Regions from separate parts of the Homo sapiens genome. Here region 2 is linked to region 1. The links come from fine-mapping of genetic effects on gene expression. A gene starts in region 1. The other region holds a variant in brackets. All regions are shown on one strand. Distances are from middle to middle.

Region 1 (8,174 bases):
TTCTCTGGGCTTTTTTCGGTGTTAGATTCAACACTGCGCTAAAGCGGGGATGTTCCATTGAATAAAAGAGCAGTGTGGTTTTCTGGGTCTGCTTCTTTATTTTCTTTTTAATGCCTGCCCCGCCCGGTTTTTCTTTTCACATAAACTTCCTCTACCACCAGCAGCAGCAGCAGCACCAAAGGTGCCTTAACTTTCGTTCAGCACCAGGTCCGGGGGGGTGAGACTGTGGGTGGTTAATTAGGGAAGCCCACCACCTGCCTCCTGTGTGTGGCTTTGGTGGTGGGAGCTCAGTGTGTGGGTGGCTCCACAGTCTCCCCTTTGGTGACTAGTTAACATCGCTGAGAACCAATTTTGCCCCTCCTTGTTCACTGCTCATTTTTCTAGTCTCTGTCCTTTGAAGGCTTTTTCCTGGGGCTCAGACGTCCACGTTTGATGAGCTCCAGTGGTGATTTGTGCCTGGAAGCTGCCACCTAAGGCCCTGGGCCTGGGGAGGCATCAACACTAAAGGTCAAGCCAACTAATCCTGCCTGTCAGGCACAGAGCAGCTAAAATTAAAACCGCCAAGTGGCTTTTTTCCTTCTCTGCTGGTGACTTGCAGCCTGCCAGCGCTGTAGGCTTTGGCGGGGGTCGGGGGGACAGGATAAAGTGCCCCATCTTGTGCTTTGCAAGCACTTTTCAAAGGGTCTTCTGCTTTTTTTCCATGTCTTGGGCGGCGAGTGGGTAGTTACTGTTAGGGTTCCAGAAAAATCCATGTGGAGTCTCCACCAGGTAGTGAGGTCCTCTCCTGGGCAGAGGTGCCTTAGAGCTGCCCTGGTTCCACCTGCCTCTCCTTCCTTCAGGGCGGCTGAGGGACAGTAGGCTCCCCCAGCATCTGGCTGCTGGGGCCAGCAACTGGCCTGGGCTGCTTTCCAGCTGTGAGCTAGGGCTGGCTACTGCTGTTTACTGGGGTGTCTGGTCCCCCGTCCAGGAGGCCTGTGCTTTGCTATGGGTCTGCCAGGCTTGAGGAGCCCTCAGAAGCAAGGCAGGCTCAGTGCGTTTCCCCAGCCAAGCCCTAAACTTCGGCTCACCAAAAGGAGGACATCTTTTTTGCCTTTGTCCTTAAGTGGCAGAATGGGGGCAGGGCCTGGGGCCTGGCTACCCTCTTTGACCTTGGCTTCACCTCATTGCTTCTCCCACAAGCTTGGTTTCCCTGGTGGGCTCATTGGGTGGTTAATTAGCTCTTTGAAGCTCTGGAAGCGGCAAAGTGGCGCTATGTGGGTTTTAGAAATAAAATCAATAAATGACTTAACCACAGCTTAGCTATCTCCTCCGCTTCTCTCCCCCAGGCCAGCTCCATTCCTGTGCTCCCTCCCTTTCTGCTCCCTGCCGTCAGCTTTTGTTAAGGTTTTGGAGAGGAAGTGGCTGACTAAGGCATCAGTCTCCAAGGTGCTAGAGGCCCTGAAATGGAAGAGACAGCAGGAAGGCTTGGCCCTCTGAACCGTGGCAAGCACTTGCCTCTGGCAGAATCAGAGAGAGAAAGGCCTGCCCACCTGTCTTAAGACACCTGGGGTGGGAAAGCAAGCCATTTACTCCATCACATTGTGACAGGGCTGTGCTTGCCCCACCCCCTCTCCTCACGTTCATTTCTGCTGCTGTAGCAGCACTGTCCCCGTCCCTCAAGGCCTGGCAAGGCCTGGCAAGAGGAATGCCAGTGGGGAAAGGTCAGCCTCAGGGCTCTGTTACTGAGGTTCAGCCAAGGGCTCTGGAGAAACCCAGGATTGGTCCAAGGAAGGAGGCCGGGTTTCTAGTTAGAAACTTAGACATAAATAACCTCGAGTGAGTTCAGGTTGTAAAAGTGCTTCAGGGTTCATTAAACCTGCATACACAACACCAAGGAGGGGCGGAGGAAGCAGGGAAACAGATGAGATCGTGCTGCCCAGGTGTGATCATGCTGGGCTGGGGCATGCAGTGTCACCCCGGGACAAAGCCTGGAAACAGTGGGGAGTGATGGCATGACAAAGACGGAAAGAAGCCACAGAAAAGGTAGTTGGAGAAAGTTAAAAATTTCCCAGTAAAAATGTTCCTGAGAGCAAGCGCCCTGGGTGCAAGAGGGGAGAGTAGCTGGGAAAGGATGGAATGAACTTGGCCTTCCCTGCCTGTAAGATGTGGATGGTCTATGGGGATCGGGTCCTCAGTGGCAGGAACATAAAGTCTTGCAGGAAATAGGGGTCAATGCAAAGAAGGTGTGTGTGGCCAAAGCAGGCTGCCACGATTGGGCTGTGAGGTGACGGCATGGTTAACAAGCTACTGCCTGCCTGGCAGTGGACTGCCAAGAAGTCTCAGCTCTACTCACAGCAACCCTCCAAGGGACAAGTGCGGGCTGTGAAGAACCTTGGATGCCAGGCCAAGCTGGAGTCCAAGCTGTGCTTAGTGGAGGATGGGGATGAGGCCCAGGAGCTGAGGCTGGGGTGCAAACTGTGAAAGGGGAAGAGACCAGACAGCTGCCAGCATTGTTTTTTTGTTTGTTTTTGAGACAGAGTCTCGCTGTGTCGCCCAGGCTGGTGTGCAGTGGCGTGATCTCGGCTCACTGCAACCTCTGCCTCCCGGGCTCAAGTGATTCTCCTGCCTCAGCCTCCCGAGTAGCTAGGATTACAGGCATGTGCCACCATGCTTGGCTAATATTTGTATTTTTAGTAGAGACGGGGTTTCGCCATGTTGATCAGGCTGGTCTCGAACTCCTGACCTCAGGTGATCCACCCACCTCGGCCTCAAAGTGCTAGGATTACAGGCGTGAGCCACCGCGCCCGGCCAGCATTGTTTTTTAATGGTTTATGAAACACTTCTTAAGAGAAATTGGAAATTAACAGAAAAATGTAAGGAAAAGTTGTTTGCATCCCCGTGTCTGTGGAGGTGTATTTTGGTGTTTTTTTCCCGATCTTTTTTCTCTACTTGGAAATGTGGCAGGCACCACAGAAGACAGTGTGCCCGTGCCTTTTGGGGGCAGGGGTAGAGCAGGGCTTGGGAGCCTGGAGACCTCTGTAGGACTTGAAGTTTGGCCCACATACTAAGCCGGTGATTCCAGGGCTGGGTCTGCCATGGCTCAGAAAGTGATCGGAGGCCGGGCGCTGTGGCTCATGCCTGTAATCCCAGCATTTTGGGAGGCCAAGGTGGGCGGATCACCTCAGGTCAGGAGTTCCAGACCAGCCTGGTCCAACATGGTGAAACCCCGTCTCTACTAAAAATACAAAACTTAGCTGGGCATGGTGGTGGGTGCCTGTAATCCCAGCTACTCAGGAGGCTGAGGCAGAATTGCTTGAGCCCAGGAGGCGGAGGTTGCAGTGAGCTGAGATCATGCCATTGCACTCTAGCCTGGGCGACAAGAATGAAACTCTACCTCAAAAAAAAAAAAAAAAAAGTTCTCAGAAACAGCTTGGCTTTCTCCGAACCAGGCTCTCAATAGTATCCTGCAGCTGTCCAGGCTTTTGACCTGCTTCCTTGGCCTTCAGAACAGAACACCCAGCTCTTCCCCTCCACCGGCCCACCACCCGGGAGGCCCAAACAGCCTTTGAACTAGCACAAGGTCCTGGTTCCTTTCTCTTAAAGAACAGCAGGATCCGAAGCCTGCCCTCACAAGATGAGGAGGCAGCAGCTGAGAGGCAGGGATTTTTTTTTTTCTCATTGGAGAGTCTAAATTTGGTGAAGGAATCCAAAGCTCAGAAAGGTAAAGCAACCAGCTTGAGGTCACACAGCAAGTCAGTGCTGGGGCCAGAACACAGCAGTGAATGGGAGGATAGCCAAAGCCTCCAGGGAAGGGCTCAAAGCTGTGGGGCTATGCACACAAATGGGGTGAGGTCCTCGAGGTACAGATTAGGCACCCATTTTATAGGCCAGGTCACAGAGCTGGTTTACAAAATCCTGCTCAGAGTGTGGCCCCAGGTGGCAGGAAGAAGTGAAAGAAGGCCTCTAATCACTTCCTAAGCAGTGGAATCACAGGGAGAACTTACTGTCATTAAACCAGTATGATGATGGAGTGGGGAATGCCTCAGTTTCTCCCACCGCCGAGGGCCTATAGGACTACAGTTCCCAGGGCCCCGTGCTGCAGGCTAGCGGCCTCCCGCCAATGCTGGCCAGTAACCTGAGCATCCCTCTCCAAAAGGTCACTTCAGGGCTCCTTGAGGGACAGCAACAGGGGGAGCCTAGAGCTGCTCAGCTTCGGTGGGGGTGGAGTGAGGGCTGTGGCCCTGCCTCACACAACCTCCCTCACACCACCCCTGCAATGCAGGGTCGTGGGCCCCTTTCTCAAAGACATCCAGTGGCCTCTGCTAGTTGCACCTCTTCCGTCAGGGGACACTGACTTGGCTCCTGCACCACAGCCTGCAGGGGGTCCTGGTTCCTTTTGCCACAACACATGGCCTCCCATCCTGGTTCAGCCACTGACAGACAGCTCCCCAATCCAGCACTCTGCCTGCTCCTTCTTGTATCCAACCCTCCAAAAGGCAGGGACAAGGGACAGAAGACCATGTGCAAGGCCTGGAGGAAGTGGGTCAGCACAGGCCTGTGAACAAGCCAGGCCAGTCTTGGCGGCCCAAGTGGAGCTCACCTCTCCCTCCCCTCTCCTCTCCTCCCCTTGCCCTCAAAATAGCTCCCTGAGCTGCCAGGCCAAGACCCTCCCATTGCAGGGGAGGCGGGGCGTGCTGCCCAGAGCCAGGCTTTAAATCCCCTTGAGGCTGGGGAGCTCCACTCCTTGGCTGGAGGCAGTGCTGAGGCCGCCGTCCCCTCTACCATCAGTCCAGTCCGGCCCGCCCTCCTGCAGCCATGTCCCGGCCCCTGTCAGACCAAGAGAAAAGAAAGCAAATCAGTGTGCGTGGCCTGGCCGGCGTGGAGAACGTGACTGAGCTGAAAAAGAACTTCAACCGGCACCTGCATTTCACACTCGTAAAGGACCGCAATGTGGCCACCCCACGAGACTACTACTTTGCTCTGGCCCATACCGTGCGCGACCACCTCGTGGGGCGCTGGATCCGCACGCAGCAGCACTACTATGAGAAGGACCCCAAGGTGCTGCTGGGGAGCCTGGGGTGGGGGTATGGGCTGAAGGCGCTGCCAGGGAGCTGGCGATCTTGACTTAAGTGGCTGCCCCTCGTCACTCTAGGTTCTTGGGGGTGGAGAATCCAGGGGTGCCAGGCACAAGGGGTGCTGGGACAATCTGAGGGAGAAACCTGGGGCAGGAGTGGGGGTCAGGGAGCTCAGAGCAGGTGGGCTGGCTGCAAAGGGTCAGTGCCCACTCGGAGAAGGTTGGAGTGGGTGCTGGTGGGCAGGACGGCGCCTGTGGCCTGGCTGGGCCCAGGTGGAAGGACACATCAGTTGCTGCATGTATGCGCGGTGTGCCTGTGCAGCAGGCGGGGCTGGGGCAGCTGGGGCGGCAGAGATCAAGTGTCCGGTGGGGTCACTGGTAAATGTCAGCAACCTGACACGCCTCGGTGGGGAGTGGGGGAGGGGCGGGCAGACGGCCCAGGAGGGGACCCAGGAAACTGGGAGACCAGGCACTGGCAGCATCCTAGTTTCTGGTGCCTCTGGGTCTCCTTGGGATTGAGGCTTGAGGGCCAAGGGGAACTGGACAGTGCAAGGATGGGAGGTGACAGTCTCTAGCCCAGTCTCTAGCCACTGTGTGACCTTGAGCAAATGACTTTTTTCTCTGGGGGTGTGTGCAGGGGGAAGGGGTGCCCATTCTCCCGAGTACCTCAGTCCCTGAAGTGGGTATGGCCAGCGCTATTTCCCAGATGAGGAGACTGAGGCCAAAGAGAGTGATTTGTCCAAAGTCAGAGGAATGCTGGGACCAGAACCTTAACCGCTGGGCCCCAAAGCCTGAGACAGGGAGAAACAAATTGGGGACAGGGATGGGACTGCTGAGCAGGGCAGGCGGGCCAGAGGTCCAGGCGTGGCTGGGCCTGGCTGAGTGTTGGTGTGTGGCCCTGACCCCATTCCCTGCCCATCCGTCTCTCTGGGCAGAGGATCTACTACCTGTCTTTAGAGTTCTATATGGGACGGACGCTACAGAACACCATGGTGAACCTGGCCTTAGAGAATGCCTGTGACGAGGCCACCTACCAGGTGTGTGTGGGGTGGGGCAAGCCGTGGGGACTGGGGGATTCCACTGCTGACACTTGACCCTGACCACTGTCACCCTCACTCCTCCAGCTGGGCCTGGACATGGAGGAGCTGGAGGAAATTGAGGAGGATGCGGGGCTGGGCAACGGGGGCCTGGGCCGGCTGGCAGGTAAGAAGACAGGGCCGTGAGGGTGGAGTGGGCCGATGGGGTCCTCCTTGCTGGGTCCCTGACAGCCACCTCCCTGCACACCCCCAGCCTGCTTTCTTGACTCCATGGCAACACTGGGCCTGGCCGCCTATGGCTACGGGATTCGCTATGAGTTTGGGATTTTTAACCAGAAGATCTCCGGGGGCTGGCAGGTGAGCAGCCTTGGCTCTAACTTGTGGGGTCTAGTCAGGATGGGGAAGACCCCCACTTGTTTATCATCTCTGGCAAGGTCCGAAACAGCCCCGCAAGCTCTGTGGAAAGCATCCTTGCTGCTCCCCACCCCCCGACCCAAAGCCAGCTGGTGCCCCTGAAACAGGTGGTCCGTGTCCCACTCGATAGCCCAGCAGACCAGGGGCCCACCTCAGAGCTCCTGACTTATACTTGGTGTAGGGTACACCGGCCCACGGCCCCCACCCTGCCCCACCGTGCACTGTGAGTGCCTGTACTGATACTGCTGGCCTTTCTCCCTGACCTGCCTTGGGTGCAGATGGAGGAGGCCGATGACTGGCTTCGCTACGGCAACCCCTGGGAGAAGGCCCGGCCCGAGTTCACGCTACCTGTGCACTTCTACGGCCATGTGGAGCACACCAGCCAGGGTGCCAAGTGGGTGGACACACAGGTGAGGATGAAGCTGGGGGTCAGGGGAGCCCAGAGAAGGGGAGGGAAGAGAAGGAAGCCCAGAGAGGAAGCAGGACCCAGTGTATTTTACACCTGAGGATGCTGAGGCTCAGAGAGGTTAAGTGACTTACTCAAAGTCACACAGCTGAAGCCAGGAGAGACTGGAGACAGGGACACAGGGGAGCCAGCCTAAGTGCAGAGTCTGGAAGGGGAGAGAGGCTGCCCTGCTCCCCCAGTGTCTCCCCATGACCTGGCTCCACTCCACACCATGAGATTTATCAAAGGACCATCTTGGCGACTTGAGTCTGCCCTGAACATCTCGACAGCAGCAGCCCAGAAAGGGGGACAGGAGAAAACTGGAGCCTTCCGAAAGGAATTCACTCATCACACAGCAAGTTAGAGGGATCCTAAAACCAAACCAAATCTAGACACAGTGGCTCATGCCCGTAATCCCAGCACTTTAGAAGGCCGAGGTGACAGTATGGCTTGAGTTCAGGATTTCAAGACCAGCCTGGGCAACATAGAGAGACCCTGTCTCTACAAAAAATAAAAAAAATAGACTGGGGCAGTGGGTCATACCTGTAATCCCAGCACTTTGGGAGGCCAAGGTGAGCAGATTGCTTGAGCTCAGGAGTTCGAGACCAGCCTGGACAAGAGGGCGAAACCCCGTCTACAAAAAATACAAAAATTAGCCAGGCGTGATGGTGTGCGCCTGTAGTCCCAGCTACTCGGGTGGCTGAAGTGGGAGAACTGCTTGAGCCCAGGAGCCTGGGTGACAGAGCCAGACCTCGTCTCAAAAAAAAAATTTAAAAAATTAGCCAGGGTGCTGGTGCATGCCTGTAGTCCCAGCTACTCTGAGGCTTCAGTGGGAGGATCACTTGAGTCCAGGATTTAAAGGCTGCAGTGAGCTATGATTGTACAACTGCACTCCAGCCAGCCTGTGTGACAGAGTGAGACTGTTTCAAAAAGCAAAAAGACCAAAAACTGAAAACCTTAAAACCAAACCAGGTGTACAAATCCCAGTTTAGGCCGGGCGTGGTGACTTACACCTGTAATCTCAGCACTTTGGGAGGCCAAGGCAGGTGGATCACCTGAGGTCAGGAGTTCAAGACTAGCCTGACCAATATGGTGAAACCCAGTCTCTACTAAAAACACAAAAACATTAGCCGGGCATGGTGGCACGTGCCTGTAATCCCAGCCACTCAGGAGGCTGAAGCCAGAGAATCGCTTGAATCCAGGAGGTGGAGGTTACAGTGAGCCA
Region 2 (15,180 bases), 28 kb before region 1:
CTTATGCTATGTTGGCCCCTATGCTGGGCTTCGGGACATGGAGAATCCCATGAGTCCTCGCTTTCAAGAAATGGGGGAGATGGGCAAGTCCTTGCTTTCAAGGATTCCCATGAGTCCTTGCTTTCAAGGATTCCCATGAGTCCTTGCTTTCAAGAAACAGCGGGGCTGGGTGTGGTGGTTCATGCCTGTAATCCCAATCCTGTAATCCGAGGCAGAAGGATTGTGTGAGGCCATGTGTTTGAAATCAGCCTGAAAACACAGGGAGACCTTGTCTCTACAAAAAATCAAAAAAGTCTGGGCGGGGGGGCTCACGCCTGTAATCCCAGCACTTTGGGAGGCCAAGGCGGATGGATCACGAGGTCAGGAGATGGAGACTATCCTGGCTAACATAGTGAAACCCCGTCTGTACTAAAAATACAAAAAAAATTAGCCGGGCGTGGTGGCACATGCCTGTAGTCCCAGCTACTCGGGAGGCTGAGACAGGAGAATCGCTTGAACCTGAGAGGCAGAGGTTGCAGTGAGCCGGGATCACGCCACTGCACTCCAGCCTGGCCGACAGCAAGAGTCTGTCTCAAAAAAGAAAGAAAAAAAGCCCAAAAAATCAAAAAATGGGGCCAGGCGCAGTGGCTCAGGCCTATAATCCTAGCACTTTGAGAGGCCGAGGTGGGCGGATCATGAGGTCAGGAGTTTACGACCAGCCTGGCTAATATGGTGAAACCCCGTCTCTACTGAAAATACAAAAATTAGCTGGGTGTAGTGGTGCGCACCTGTAGTCCCAGCTACTCGGGAGGCTGAGGCAGAAGAATCACTTGAACCCTAGAGGCAGAGGTTGCAGTGAGTGGAGATTGCACCACTGCACTCCAGCCAGGGCGACAGAGTGAGACTGCATCTCAAAAAAAAAAAAAAAAAAAATCGAAAACTTAGCTGAGCATGGTGATGTAGGCATGGCGTTGTGTGTTGGTGGTCCCAGCCACTCAGGAGGCTGAGGTGGGAGGATTGCTTGAACCCAGGAGGTTGAGGTTGAAGTGAACTGTGATCGCGATCGTACCACTGCATTGAAGCCTGGGCAACAGAGCAAGACCTTGTCTCAAAAAAAAGAAAAAGGGAAATGTGGACAGTTAGCAGCCGGTACTGAGGTCCAGTTAGAGGGAGAGCTGGGAGGTGTGGAGAGGCCTCAGAGACCGGGCAAGCTTGGGAGGTTCGAAAGTGTGTCAGGGTTTCTAGGCAGGTGAGGTAGGGAATGGCACTCCAGGCAGGGGGAAGAGCAAGTATATGTTAGTATGTGTTGGGGCGGAGCAGCCTGGTGAGCTGGGGAGCTGTTAAGAGTTTGCCTGGGGGCCAGGCACAGTGGCTCACGCCTGTAATCCCGCACTTTGGGAGGCTTTGGCGAGTGGATCAACTGAGTCAGGAGTTCGAGACCAGCCTGGTCAACATGGCGAAACCCCGTCCCTAGTAAAAATACAAAAATTAGCCGGGCATGGTGGCGGGCGCCTGTAATCCCAGCTACTCGGGAGGCTGAGGCAGGAGAATAGCTTGAACCTGGGAGGCGGAGGTTGCAATGAGCCGAGATCGCACCATTGCACTCCAGCCTGGGCAACAGAGCAAGACTCCGTCTCAAAAAAAAAAGAAAAACAGAAGAGAAAAACAGTCAGATTCTGATTCTCTTTTGCAAGTTGAGCCAGTAGGATTTCCTGATGAAAGAGAAAGAGGAGTCAAGGATGGCTCCAAGGTTTTTGGCCTGGGTGTCAGGAAGAATGCAGCTGTCATCAGCTGAAGGTGGAGCAGTTTCAGGGGGAGCTGAATTCAATTTTGTTGCATGAACATGCTTATTAGATGTGCAAGTGGGACCTGCGTCAGTCCATGGCTTGGTGGGGCTGGGCTCTGAAGGGAGGGGCCCTGGGCTATGGGCCCCCGACATTGTCATGACCAGGTGGGTGGTGTGGGAAGCAGTGGACTGAGTGCAGAGGGTAGGGGAGGCCAGGCCAGTGGCTGCAACAGCTGGGGAGCTCAGGAGCCCCCTTCCTGCAACGTGCTCACTCCAGGACCACATCTGGAGCCCGGTGGCCTTGGGGCTTCCTGAGCTCAGTCCCCAAGTGAGTCTGCTTTGGCGCAGGACCTACAGGAAACAGGCCCATCAGAGCCCCAACAGGTCACAGGCAGCTTTGAGCTTGTGTTCGGGAAATGGCAGAGGCACAGTGAGCACTTTGAATGCAAAGAACAGAGAACTGGAGTTGTTTGGAGAAAAAACAAATACAAAATATATGCTTTTGTCCCATCCAAAGACCAGATGGGGAGGAGAGTGGGAGGAATGTGGGGAGAGGGAGGGACGAGGACCAGGGACAGTGAGAGACAGACATTGGCTTCCTCCATGTCCTGGCAGAAGGTACAAACAGGACATGGGCCACTGGGTGGAGGTGGCAGGGCTGCTGACAGGAAGCCCCATTCCCCAGAGGAAGAAACAGGCTGAGAGGGTCCCCTGGAGGGTTAGGGGACACTCAGTGGCCAAGGCAACGGCCCCTCTGATAACTTTTCCTCACTACTTCTACCCCGACAGCAAGGCAAGCCACCCCCTGGCCCCACAGGGCTGTTGCCTCTGCTGGAGAAGCAGAGGGCAGGCCATTTGCCTTTTGAAGTTCATTCACTGCCCCGGGCCTGTTTTCCCATCTGTGAAATGGGCCGTGTGCAGTCTGTGCAACCTGGTGGGGCTGGAGCCTGCATCCTCCCCAGCCCCTCCATGCTCTCATTTCTTCATTCCTTTTTTCTTTTTCTTTTTTTTTGAGACCGAGTTTCACTCTCATTGCCCGGGCTGGAGTCCGATGGCACAATCTCGGCTCACTGCAACCTCCGCCTCCTGGGTTCAAGCAATTCTCCTGCCTCAGCCTCCCAAGTAGCTGGGATTACAGGCACGCGCCACCACGCCTGGCTAATTTTGTATTTTTAGTAGAGACAGGGTTTCTCTATGTTGGTCAGGCTGGTCTCGAACTCCCGACCTCGGGTGATCTGCCTACCTCGACCTCCCAGAGTGCTGGGATTACAGGCGTGAGCCGTTGCACCTGGCATCATTTCTTTCTTTATACCCTGCCTTTACCTGACAAGGACTTTCAGTGACTCAAAATAGGTGGAAAGTCCTAATATGGGATGATAGGAGCTGGCCCTCTGTGAGCACACACGATTCCCAGCACTGCCGAGAGCACCTCCCCTGTATTAACTCATGAAGCCTTCACTGTGACTCTCTGGGGTGGGGCCCGCCATTATCCCCAATCTACAGATGACGAAACTGAGGCATGGAGAGATTAAGTGGCTTGCCTGGAGTCACACAGAGCTAGAAGCAATCCTGAGACCCAAACCCCTGGCCTGGATGGAGACACTCCCTCCTGGCTTCAGGGCTGGGAGACTGGCTTCAGATCCTCCACCTTTCCCAGCTGTTCTTGGGGCAAGTTACTCTGTGTCTCTGAGTCTCAGTCCCTTACTTGTAAAGAGGGAAGCTGATAGTGCCCACCTCATAGGGCTCTGCAGGGGCCTTGCCCATGGATGGCATCCCAGACACAGGCCCTGGTTATCACCCCT[A/G]CAGGCGCTTTGCTCTGTCCACCAAGATTCCTGACACCAAAGGCTGCTTGCAGTGTCGTGTGGGTAAGAAATGGGCTGGGCGGGGTGGGGCGGGGCCTGGTGGGGGGCAGCGCAGGCCCAGCCCGGTGCCCACTGCCTGCTCCCCTGCCAGTGCGGAACCCCTACACGGGTGCCACCTTCCTGCTGGCCGCCCTGCCCACCAGCCTGCTCCTGCTGCAGTGGTATGAGCCGCTGCAGAAGTTTCTGCTGCTGAAGGTGAGGGGCGGTGGGGGGAGGCCCAGGGCACCCTCAGAGCTCTGGGGGGAGAAATGGAGACCTGAGCATCCCTGCTGCCCCCTAGAACTTCTCCAGCCCTCTGCCCAGCCCAGCTGGGATGCTGGAGCCGCTGGTGCTGGATGGGAAGGAGCTGCCGCAGGTGTGTGTTGGGGCCGAGGGGCCTGAGGGGCCCGGCTGCCGCGTCCTGTTCCATGTCCTGCCCCTGGAGGCTGGCCTGACGCCCGACATCCTCATCCCACCTGGTGAGCAGAAGGGCCAGGCTGCTGGGGGTGGGTGTGTGTGCATGAGAGACCGAGGGAGGGAGGCAGGGAGGGCCAAGGCTCCCAAACTAGGCTCCCCACAGCCAGTGGCTCCACAGAGACCTTGAGGGCTGCCATGTGGGGTCTGGGGCCCACAGCCTCCCTTCAACAAGCTTCACCTGGGCTTCCATAAAAGGGTTCATTAGACGGAAGGGCTTGGCAGCTAAGAAAATCCTGGCCAGGCCGGGCACAGTGGCTCACGCCTGTAATCCCAGCATTTTGGGAGGCCAAGGAGAGAGAGGGGCTTGAGCTCATGAGTTTGAGACCAGCCTGGACAACATGGCGAGACCCTGACTCTACAAAAAATTAGCTGGGCATGTTGATGCACGTGTGTAGTCCCAGCTACTTGGGCTGAGGTGGGAGGATCACTTGAGCCTGGGAGACAGAGGCAGTTGTGAGCCATGTTCGCGCCACTGCACTCCAGCCTGGGTGACAGAGTGAGACCCTATCTCAAAACAAAAAACAAAAACAAAAACAAAAACTGGTCAACATTGCTCCGGGCTGCAGGGAAGAGGCAGATCTGGCAAGGCAGGGCCTAGAGGCCCCATTCTCAGCCAGGAAGCAGGACTCCAGGTGTTGTGGCAGCTTGGGGTGATAATGAGCAGTGATGGGTAAGGGAGAAAGGAGGGCGCACGTAGTTAAGGCACCTGGTGCCAGGCCCTGAGCCAGGGGTCTCACACACAGGATTTTATTCTTTATTTATTTTTTTATTTTTTGAGACAGAGTCTTGCTCTGTTGCCCAGGCTGGAGTGCAATGGCACGATCTCGGCTCACTGCAACCTCTGCCTCGTGGGTTCAAGCTATTCTCTTGCCTCAGCCTCCCGAGTAGCTGGGATTACAAGCATGTGCCACCACGTCCGGCTACGTTTTGTATTATTAGTAGAAATGGGGTTTCGCCATGTTGGCCAGGCTGGTCTCCAACACCTGATCTCAGGTGATCCACCCGCTTCGGCCTCCCACAGTGCTGGGATTACAGGTGTGAGCCACTGCGCCCAGCCCAGGATTTTATTCCTGATCCTCATGATAGCCTCTCAAGGCAGTGCCATCTTGTCTGTGTTATGAGGAAACAGAGGCTCCGAGAGGTAAAGTGATTTGTACCAGGTCACACAGTGACTGGGTCACGAGGCCTGGTCCCCTTAAACCTGGAGCCCTCCCGTGGCTCCCCGTGACTCCTCCTCCACTCCCCATGAGCCCTAGGACGGGTCACTCATCCTCTCAGAGCCTCAGTTCCCAGCCCTGGAGGGAGATGAGGTTTCCCAGCCCCACAGGGCTGTTGTGAGGCTGACGTGCCCTCATGGCCAAGGGCTGTCTGTAGCCTGGCCCCCGTATCCTCTTGGGGTTGGGGGACTGGTGGCTCAGCCAGGCCATGTCTCTCTTCTCTGCCTGCAGAGGGGATCCCAGGCTCGGCCCAGCAGGTGATCCAGGTGGACAGGGACACAATCCTAGTCAGCTTTGAACGTGAGTGCCCTGGGGGCAGGGCTTAGGGCAGGGGACTATGGAGGTAAGGCGACCACGTGGGTCTGCCTTCCCAGAAGGGAGCCTCCCCGTCCCCACTCACCAATTCCTTCCCTGTGCAGGCTGTGTGAGGATTGTCAACATGCAGGGCGAGCCCACGGCCACACTGGCACCTGAGCTGACCTTTGATTTCCCCATCGAGACTGTGGGTGAGTGAGCCAGAGGTGGGGTGCAGGCCTTTCCCTGGCCTGGAGCACGTTGTTGCTCAGGGGCCTGGGGCTGGCGGTAGGATGAGGAGGCAGATCCCCTAGCCCCTCTCCTGAGCCATCCTGGTCACCTGAGGTCAGTGAGGACCCCTGTGGCCCAGACCCAGGCTCAGGCGTGGCTGAGGGGGTGCCAAGATGGGTGCAGGGCTGATGGTGGCCTGGCCCCCATAGTGTGCCTGCAGGACAGTGTGCTGGCCTTCTGGAGCCATGGGATGCAAGGCCGAAGCCTGGATACCAATGAGGTGAGTGGGGCCCAGGGACCTTGCTGTCCCCTGCCTTGTGGTCCCTACCTCTTTGGAAAGGACCTACTGGAGTGGCCTCAGTGCTTCCCACCTGTCTTCCCAGGTGACCCAGGAGATCACAGATGAAACAAGGATCTTCCGAGTGCTTGGGGCCCACAGGTAGGCGGTGGTACCCTAGCCTCCCCTTCAGATGCCCCTGAGGCCAGAGAAGGGGCTGATGTACCAAGTGTCTCCCGCCCTGCCCCCTACTCCTCTCTCCTCCAGAGACATCATCCTGGAGAGCATTCCCACTGACAACCCAGAGGCGCACAGCAACCTCTACATCCTCACGGGCCACCAGAGCACCTACTAAGAGCAGCGGGCCTGTCCAGGGGCTCCCCGCCCCACCCCACGCCTTAGCTGCAGGCCCTTTTGGGCAAAGGGGCCCATCCTAGACCAGAGGAGCCCAGGCCCTGGCCCTGCTGGGGCTGAAGGTCAGAAGTAATCCTGAGAAATGTTTCAGGCCTGGGGAGGGAGGGGAGCCCCCGACGCCTCTGCAATAACTGGACCAGGGGGAGCTGCTGTCACTCCCCCATCCCCGAGGCAGCCCAGTCCCTAGTGCCCAAGGCAGGGACCCTGGGCCTGGGCCATCCATTCCATTTTGTTCCACATTTCCTTTCTACTCTTTCTGCCAAGAGCCTGCCCCTGCATTTGTCCTGGGAAACACGGTATTTAAGAGAGAACTATATTGGTATTAAAGCTGGTTTGTTTTAGTCCTCTGGTCCCTCTGGGTAGGGGGAGTGAACCCACCTCATCTCCCGCCTCCTTCCCTCCAACACACGTTTCTGTGGGCACCACAGAAGGGCAGGGCCCCCAGGGTTTTGGAGAAGCCAGGTAGAGGTGACAGGAGGCCATGGCCCCCAGCAGCCTTCTAGGGGCACTGTGCCTTCCCCTGCATCCTTGCTCAGAACTGACCCTCAGCTTTGCAGTTTGAGGGCTCTGCTGTAGTTTAGCACCCCAAGGACTCATGCAGATGGGGGGACCTCAACAAAGGGACTCTCATCCAGGGCACCCTTGCCCCACGTAGGATCTCACTGGGTGACCCCTGGAAGGGCCCAGGAGGAGCCCCCAGAGGGCTGTTCCCTCCATTCCCATGGAGGCTGCTGCCCATGGAGGTAGCCTGTGTGACCTGTATCCCCTGCCTCCACCTACTGCCTAGGTGTTAGACCAGGAACATCAGATGACAGCACGATCATCAGATTGGATGGGAAGGCTAGCCTGTGTCCGTCTACCAGACTCCCAAGGGCTGCCTCAGTGCCAGGCCCTGGGGTCACTACCAGAAACAGACCAGCCCCCAGGGAGGGCGTCCTCCTTGCTGGAGCCTGCATCTTGAGGGCATGGCCATTCTCCTGTAGCTTGTGCTTACGCTGTCATTCTCCAAGGGTCTGTCTGCTCAGCTCTGAATGCCAGGGCCCCCAGGGCTGGGCATCCTCTTTTGCCCCAGGCACTGATCAGCCGCTCTTGACTGGAGCCTTTGGGCAGCTGCAGCCCAGGAGGCAGGATGGGAACTGCCTTGAGGGCCCACAGCTGGGGGGCTGGGAAGGTGGGGGCAGGGTGGGGGGAACAGCTGGAGCAAAGGCCCCATGGTCACCCCTACATTCAAGGCAGGTGTTGGAGGAAGACCTTTGCACCTGGTGGGTGGCAATAAAGACTTGCGGAGTGACGTGGTAGGTGGATGGCAGCCATGCGAGTAGGCTCAGTGGTTCCCAGGGTGTCACACTGTCCCCTCAGCCACCCTCCAGCAGAGTTTCAACTGTTCTGACTCTGTCCAGTGACTGGGAGGGTTTCTTGGCTGGAATGGGGAGCCAGCCCAGGGGAGGGAACACATCTCTTCACACCAGGCATTCACACCCATGTTCCCGTGAGCCCCAAGGAGGGTGAGGGGCACCTTCCAAATTGGGGTCGGTGGTAACAGGGATACAAAGTGAATTCCTAACTTCCAATTTTCCAGATTTCTCGGAGGAATGTTGGGACCAGGGTGGGGTAAGTGGGGACAGGGAGGTGAGCTCCTGCTCAGCAAAGGCCCTGACCAAAGGCGCCCTGGGGAGGACTGGCTTTCCGTTCACCAACCGGCCAGCAGCAGACAGTGCCTCCTTGTGGCGGATCTTCCCGGACCTCAGATTCAGTCTGGAAACGGGGTTTGGACTGCAGAGTGTAAACTGCCAAAGTGGGGGCCTCCCATAAAACGCTTGCTGCCAGCAAAGGCAGGCCAAGAGCAAAGAAAGGCCGAGAAACCAGGGAATATGCACTGAGAGACTAACACTTTAAATTTTATTTATGTATTTTTAAATGCGTAACCTTTGCCCATGGTACATATTTTTTTAAATACAGCAGAGATATAATGAAGTCTCCCTCTTACCCCGTCCCCAGCCACCCTGGTCTCAGTTACTTATGAACCCTTCTAGAAGTATTTTGCGTATTTAAGCAATTTGGTATATTTTATTCTTGGCGATTTTTTATATACGTATTAACATATTCCACATACTGTACTGACCTTGCCCTTTAAAAATATATCCTGGGGGGCCAGGTGTGGTGGCTCACACCTGTAATCCAAGCACTTTGGGAGGCCGAGGCGGGCGAATCACGAGGTCAGGGGTTCGAGACCAGCCTGGCCAACATGGTGAAACCCCGTCTCTACTAAAAATACAAAAAATTAGCTGGGCATGGTGGCGAGTGCCTGTAATCCCAGCTACTCGGGAGGCTGAGGCAGGAGAATCGCTTGAACCTGGGAGGCGGAGGTTGCAGTGAGCCTAGAACATGCCACTGCACTCCAGCCTGGGCGACAGTGCAAGACTCCGTCTCAAAAAAAAAAAAAAGAGAAAAAAATATATATATATCCTGGAGAATATGAATGTATTAAATTATCACATGCACCCTGAAAAGATATGTATATATCCTGGAGAGTTTTGCGTTAAAGATCTCCCTTTAAAAAAAAATTTTTTTTTTTTTACAGCTAGTGGTATTCCATTGTGTATGTTTCCCATAACAAATGTTAATGACCTGCAGTGAGATCCCTATTGGTGGAAATTTGAGTTGTTTTTACTACTTTTATATTACAAACAATGCTGCAATAAATATTATTAGGCTAGTGCCCCTCTGTACATATTCAAGCACTTCTAGAAGATAAGTTCCTGGAAGCAGCATTAATGAGTTAGCGGTGGCTACATATGCCGTGGTGATAGCTGCTGTCCAGTTGCCCCTCCATGGGCAGAAACCTGTGGGAGGGTCAGACCAGACTCTTTAAGTCATTCTTGAGGACAAGTAGAAGGGACGTGGGCCCCCCCAGGATGTTCAGGTAACTGGCCCATACCCGGAGTCATCCTGGTGAAAGTCAAGGGGAGCACCATGATGTGTGCTTCGGGACGGCGGAGGATCTGCCGTGTTCCCTGTGGCATGTCCAGCACCTGCTCACTACCAGTGCTCAGGAGACCCTCACGAGTAAGGGAATGGACAAGATGTGGTGAAGAGGAGTCCCTGCAATCTGCCCTTGGACTGGGTGAGCCACCCCAGCTCGCTGAGCTTTACTTTCCTTAGGTTTACCATATCCAAAGCCAACTGCAGGGCTGTCAGGAGGATCAGAAATACTGTAACAGACATAATGCAATAACATAGATGACTCTTAGAGGTAAATTAAAACAGCACTTTATGCACAGTACGATAGCATATTATAAAGCTCAAAAACAAAATGAAACCATCTATTGTTTAGCAATACATGCCCAAGATACAACCCTATTAAAAAATCATGGGAAGGAAAAGCACAAAATCTGAGATGGTCGTCCCTGAGAGGAGTGTGGGATGGGATAAGGAAGGAGCCCAGGAATTTTTAAAGGTATTGGTAATATCTTAGCTCTCAGGTTTGGTGGTAGGTTCATGGGTATTTAAGTTATAACTCAGTTCCTAACTCACATAAGGTGCCACACATCCTTTTGTATGTATCAAATATTATGTCATAAAATTTTAGTTTGGGCATGGTGGTTCATGTCTGTAATCCCAGCACTTTGGGAAACTGAGGCAGGCAGATCACTTGAACCCAGGAGTTCTAGACCAGCCTGGGCAACATGACAAAACCCTGTCTCTACAAAAGATACACAAATTAGCTGGACATGGTGGCACTCGCCTGCAGTCCCAGCTACTCTGGAGGCTAAGGTGGGAGGATTGCTTGAGCCTAGGAGTTCAAGGCTGCAGTGAGCTATGAACTTGCCACTGCACTCCAGCCTGGGTGACAGAGTGAGAACCTGTCTCAAAAAGAAAAAAAAAAAAAGGAAAAAAATTTTTAAAAAATATTTAAAAGTAATCACCGAAAAAATAGAACTCGCTTGAAAGACAAGACCAAAAACGAAGAGGACGTTTCCCTAGATGGTGAAAACAAGTGGGGCGGAATCACTGCAGCGTCCTGCACAGAACTCTGGAATTGCCACTTTGCAGTTGCTGCCTTCTAGTGTGTATTGTTGAAAGACAGTTTTATTGAGGCATAATTGGCATACAATAAGCTGCATATAAAAATGTGTACGTGATGACTTTTGACATACGTGTACACCCGTGAAGCTATTTCCACAATCAAGATAATCACCATCCCCTTCACTCTGGAAAGTTTCCCATGCCCTTGGTAAGCCCACCCTCCTGCTTCTTGCCTCCCATCCCCAAGTAACAACTGTGCTGCTTTCTGTCACTACAGGTTAATCTGCACTTTCTAGAATGTATGTAAATAGAATCACACAGTATGTACTTGTGTTTTGTCTGGCTTCTTGCTTAGCTGAGCATAAGGATTTGCGAGTCATCCCTGTTGCATGCATTAATATTTTATTCCTTTTTATTGCCAAGTAGTATTCCATTGTTTGGATGCACCAGTTTGGTTAGCTGTTCACCTGTTGATGGACATTTGGACCATGTTCCGTTGTGAACTATTACAAATAAAGCTGCTATAAACATTCATGTACCTGTCTTTGTTGGATATATTCTATCATTTCTTGTGGGTAAATAGTTTGGAGTGGAAGGGCTGACTCACAGTTAAGTGTCGTTTAATTTTTTTTTTTTTTTTTGAGACGGAGTCTCACTCTGTCACCTAGGCTGGAGTGCAGTGGCCTGATCTTGGCTCACTACAACCTCCGCCTTCCTGGGTTCAAGTGATTTTCCTGCCTCAGCCGCCTGAGTAGCTGGGATTACAGGCATGCCTGGCTAATTTTTGTATTTTGAGTAGAGATGGGGTTTTGCCATGTTGGGCAGACTGGTCTTGAACTCCTGACCTCAGGTGATCTGCCTGCCTCGGCCTCCCAAAGTGCTGGGATTACAGGTGTGAGCCACTGCGCCCGGCCGCATCTTTTTCTGTTTTTCTTTTTCTTTTGAGATTGGAGTCTTGCTCTGTTGCCCTGACTGGAGTGCAGTGATGCGATCTCGGCTCACTGCAACCTCTGCCTCACGGGTTCAGGTGATTCTCCTGCCTCAGCCTCCTGAGTAGCTAGGACTTCAGGTGTGCACCAGTACACCCGGCTAATTTTTGTCTTTTTAGTAGAGATGGGGTTTCTCCATGTTGGACAGGCTGGTTTTGAACTCCTGGTCTCAAGTGATCTGCCTGCCTTGGCCTCCAAAAGTGTTGCGATTACAGGTGTGAAATACTGTGCCCAGCCTTTTTTTGTTTTTTGAGATGGGTTCTCATTCTGTCACCCAGGCTGGAGTGCAGTGGTGTCACCTCCACTCACTGCCACCCCTGCCTCTGGGGCTCAAGCCATCCTCCCACCTCAGTCCTCATGAGTAGCTGAGACTACAGGCTCACACTACCATACCCAACTAATTTTTTATTTTTTGTAGAGACAGAGGTCTACCCATGTTGCCCAGGCTGGTCTTGAATTCCTGGCCTTGAGTGATCCCACTTCAGCCTTCTGAGTAGTTGGGATTATAGATGTGAGCCACCTCAATGTATTTTTTATTTTTTATTTTTTGAGACGGAGTCTCGCTCTGTTGCCCAGGCTGGAGTACAGTGGCGTGATCTCAGCTCACTGCAAGCTCTGCCTCCCGGGTTCACGCCATTCTCCTGCCTCAGCCTCCTGAGTAGCTGGGACTACAGGCACCTGCCACCACACTCAGCTATTTTTTTTTTTGTATTTTTAGTAGAGATGGGGTTTCACCGTGTTAGCCAGGATGGTCTCAATCTCCTGACCTCATGATCTGCCTGCCTCGGCCTCCCAAAGTGCTGGGATTACAGGTGTGAGCCACCGCACCCAGCCTTTTTTTTTTTTTTTTTTTTTTTTTTTTGAGACAGGGTCTCCCTCTGTCACTCAGGCTTCAGTGCAGTGGTGTGATCACAGCTTATTGCAGCCTCAAACTCTTTGGGGTCAAACAATCCTCCTGCCTCAGCCTCCCAAGTAGCTGGAACTACAGGCACACATCACGCTCAGCTGATTATTATTATTTTTGTTTCTGTAGAGACATTCTCCCTATGTTGCCCAGGCTGGTTTCGAACTCCTGGCCTCAAGCAATCCTCCTGCCTTGCCTTCCCAAAGTGCTGAGATTACAAGTGTGAGCCACTGCACCCAGCCCTTGGTGCATTTCTCAATGCCTATAGTTATATAATGTTGCAAAAATGGAATCATGTAATACATTTGTTAAGCGTATGAAGCATTTTTTTTTTAACTTTGGATTTTTAGGCTGGGTTTGGTGGCTCACGCCTGTAATCCCAGCACTTTGGGAGGCTGAGGCGGGCGAATCACTTGAGATCAGGAGTTTGAGACCAGCCTGGCCAACATGGTGAAACCCCGTCTCTACTAAAAATACAAAAATTAGCCAAGCATGGTGGCGCATGCCTGTAATCCGAGCTACTCTGGAGGCTGAGTCACGAGAATCGCTTGAACCCAGGAGGAGGAGGTTGCAGTGAGCCAAGATCATGCCACTGCACTCTGGTCTGGGTGACAGAGCAAGACTCCATCTCATAAGAAAAAAAAAAAAAAAAGTTGGATGTTTAAGATGTGTTGGGCAACTTCCAGCCGCCCATTTCACTCTGCAATAGAGCATGTGCTGTGTATCCTTCTGTAGCCTTTGTTATGCTCAGATAATCATATGCAAACATGCACACATCTGTATGGGGTTTGTGTTACAAAAACAAAGCCATGTCATATGTATTTCTTTGTTAACACAGAACAGTAGTTACTTTAGGTTGGTTGGTATGAATTAACAGCTTTTCAAAGCTGCCTAATATTCTAGGTTATGGGTTTTCCAATTCAGTCGTTCATATATTGATGGAAATTCACTCTGTTTGCCCATTTTTACCACTACAAACAATGCTGCAGTAAATGCAGAAGACTTTGAAAACATTATATAATCACATGGCTTGTTTGGGGGCAGATTCCCAGGAGTGGGATATTGGATCGAAAGGGTTTATGTTTTCTTTCTTTTGAGACAGAGTCTCACTCTGTCGCCCAATCACAGCTCACTTCTGCCTTTACCTCCTGGGCTCAAGGGATCCTCCCACCTCAGCTTCACAAGTAGCTGTGAGTACAGGTGCATATTTTTTTATTTTTTGAAAGGGGGAACAATTTTAATAGACAACAGAATGCTTTCTAAAAGATTAACGATAGTAGGTGTTAGCACATTTATGTTCTGCTATTTTCATTTATTTTGAGATTCCTCATTATCACCTTAATTTGTATTTCCCTTATAGGCAGTGTCTAAATACTGGTAAATAAATTAGCTAGTCTCAGTCGCACAAACTCAGCACAGTCTAAGGTGGTACTGCTATAACAGAATCCCTGAGACTGGGTAATTTATTTATTTGAGACAGGGTCTTGCTCTGTTGCTCAGGCTGGATTGCAGTGGCGTGATCATAGCTCATTGCAGCCTTGATCTCCTGGGCTCAAGTAATCCTCCTGCTTCAGCCTCTTGTGTAGCTGGGACTATAGACATGGACCACCATGACCAGCATTTTTTTTTTATTTTTTATTTTTTTAGTAGATGTTGCCCAGGCTGGTCACAAACTTCTGAGCTCAAGAGATCCTCCCACCTCAGACTCTCAAAGTGCTGGGATTACAGGCATTAGCCACCACACCCAGTCTGGGTAATTTATAAAGAATAGAGATTTCTGGCTGGGCACGGTGGCTCACGCCTATAATCCCAGCAGTTTGGGAGGCCAAGGTGGGTGGATCACCTGAGGTAAGGAGTTCGAGACCAGCCTGGCCAACATGGTGAAACCCTGTCTCTATTAAAAATACAAAAAATTAGCCAGGCATAGTGGCGGCACCTGTAATCCCAACTACTTGGGAGGCTGAGGCAGGAGATTCATGTTGGCCAGGCTGGTCTCGAACTCCTGACCTCAGGTGATCCACCCACCTCGGCCTCCCAAAGTGTTGGAGCCACCGCGCCTGGATGGAGATTAAGTTTCTAACACATGAGCTTTGGGGGACACATTCAAACCTGTCCACCTAAAGTAATCAAAAGGGTCAGAATCTAATTTCAATAGTTTATTCAAGCACAAAACATGAGGGTGGACTACCTGGAAACACCGACTCCAAATGAATGGAGTCAGTGTTTCGAAGTAGAGAAGTTAAGGTTTCATTTACACACACAAAGGCAGAGGAGTTTTAGGATTACATTCTTCATATATGGTCAGTGCGTACTTACAGTAATTTGGTTATAGGCCGAGTGCAGTGGTCCACTCCTGTAATCCCAGCACTTTGGGAGGCCGAGGCGGGCAGATCACCTGAGGTCAGGAGTTCAAGACCAGCCTGGCCAACATGGTGAAATTCCATCTTTACAAAAATGTAACAATTAGCTGGGCATGATGGCAGGTGGCTGTAATCCCGGCTACTCAGGAGGCTGAGGTGGGAGAATCGCTTGAATCTGGGAGGCAGAGGGTGCAGTGAGCCGAGATTGTGCCATTGCACTCCAGCCTGGGCGACAGAGCCAGACTCTGTCTCAAATTGAAATAATAATAATAAATAATTTGGTTGTAAGCAGTGTTTCTTTTTGGGAGGCATACATTTAACATTTTTTACAGAGGGTGTAATAGTCATGGGTTTGCTGTCATCTGGTCTAAGTAAAGCAGGACAA

Direction of the effects. Positions count from the first base shown, and alleles are read on the strand shown. Sizes are in standard deviations (SD) of each study's normalised expression.
In carriers of allele G in region 2, the expression in hippocampus of the gene that starts at base 4,719 in region 1 tends to be lower than with A alone (small effect, 0.24 SD a copy in GTEx).

Evidence for each region. PIP is the estimated chance that this variant, and not a neighbour inherited with it, causes the effect.
Region 2: its variant is fine-mapped to the expression of PYGM in hippocampus (GTEx, PIP 0.95).

What each region holds. Positions count from the first base shown.
Region 1 is chr11:64,756,519-64,764,692 of GRCh38, reverse strand. It overlaps PYGM (glycogen phosphorylase, muscle associated), which reads left to right and starts at 4,719. Exons shown (of 20, transcript NM_005609.4): 1 at 4,719-5,037; 2 at 5,989-6,090; 3 at 6,178-6,256; 4 at 6,344-6,447; 5 at 6,783-6,914. The coding sequence starts at 4,795. It overlaps SF1 (splicing factor 1), which reads left to right. Exons shown (of 13, transcript NM_004630.4): 13 at 1-87. RefSeq lists enhancers at 756-805, 856-955, 1,426-1,475, 705-1,578, 2,166-2,485 and 5 more.
Region 2 is chr11:64,780,814-64,795,993 of GRCh38, reverse strand. It overlaps MAP4K2 (mitogen-activated protein kinase kinase kinase kinase 2), which reads left to right. Exons shown (of 32, transcript NM_004579.5): 25 at 3,572-3,630; 26 at 3,719-3,822; 27 at 3,908-4,085; 28 at 5,532-5,600; 29 at 5,720-5,806; 30 at 6,035-6,105; 31 at 6,209-6,264; 32 at 6,370-11,076. The coding sequence ends at 6,457. Among named protein-coding and RNA genes, the nearest start is that of SF1, 9.9 kb to the right of the region's middle. RefSeq lists an enhancer at 5,484-5,985. The variant A/G (reference allele first, on the strand shown) is at 3,568.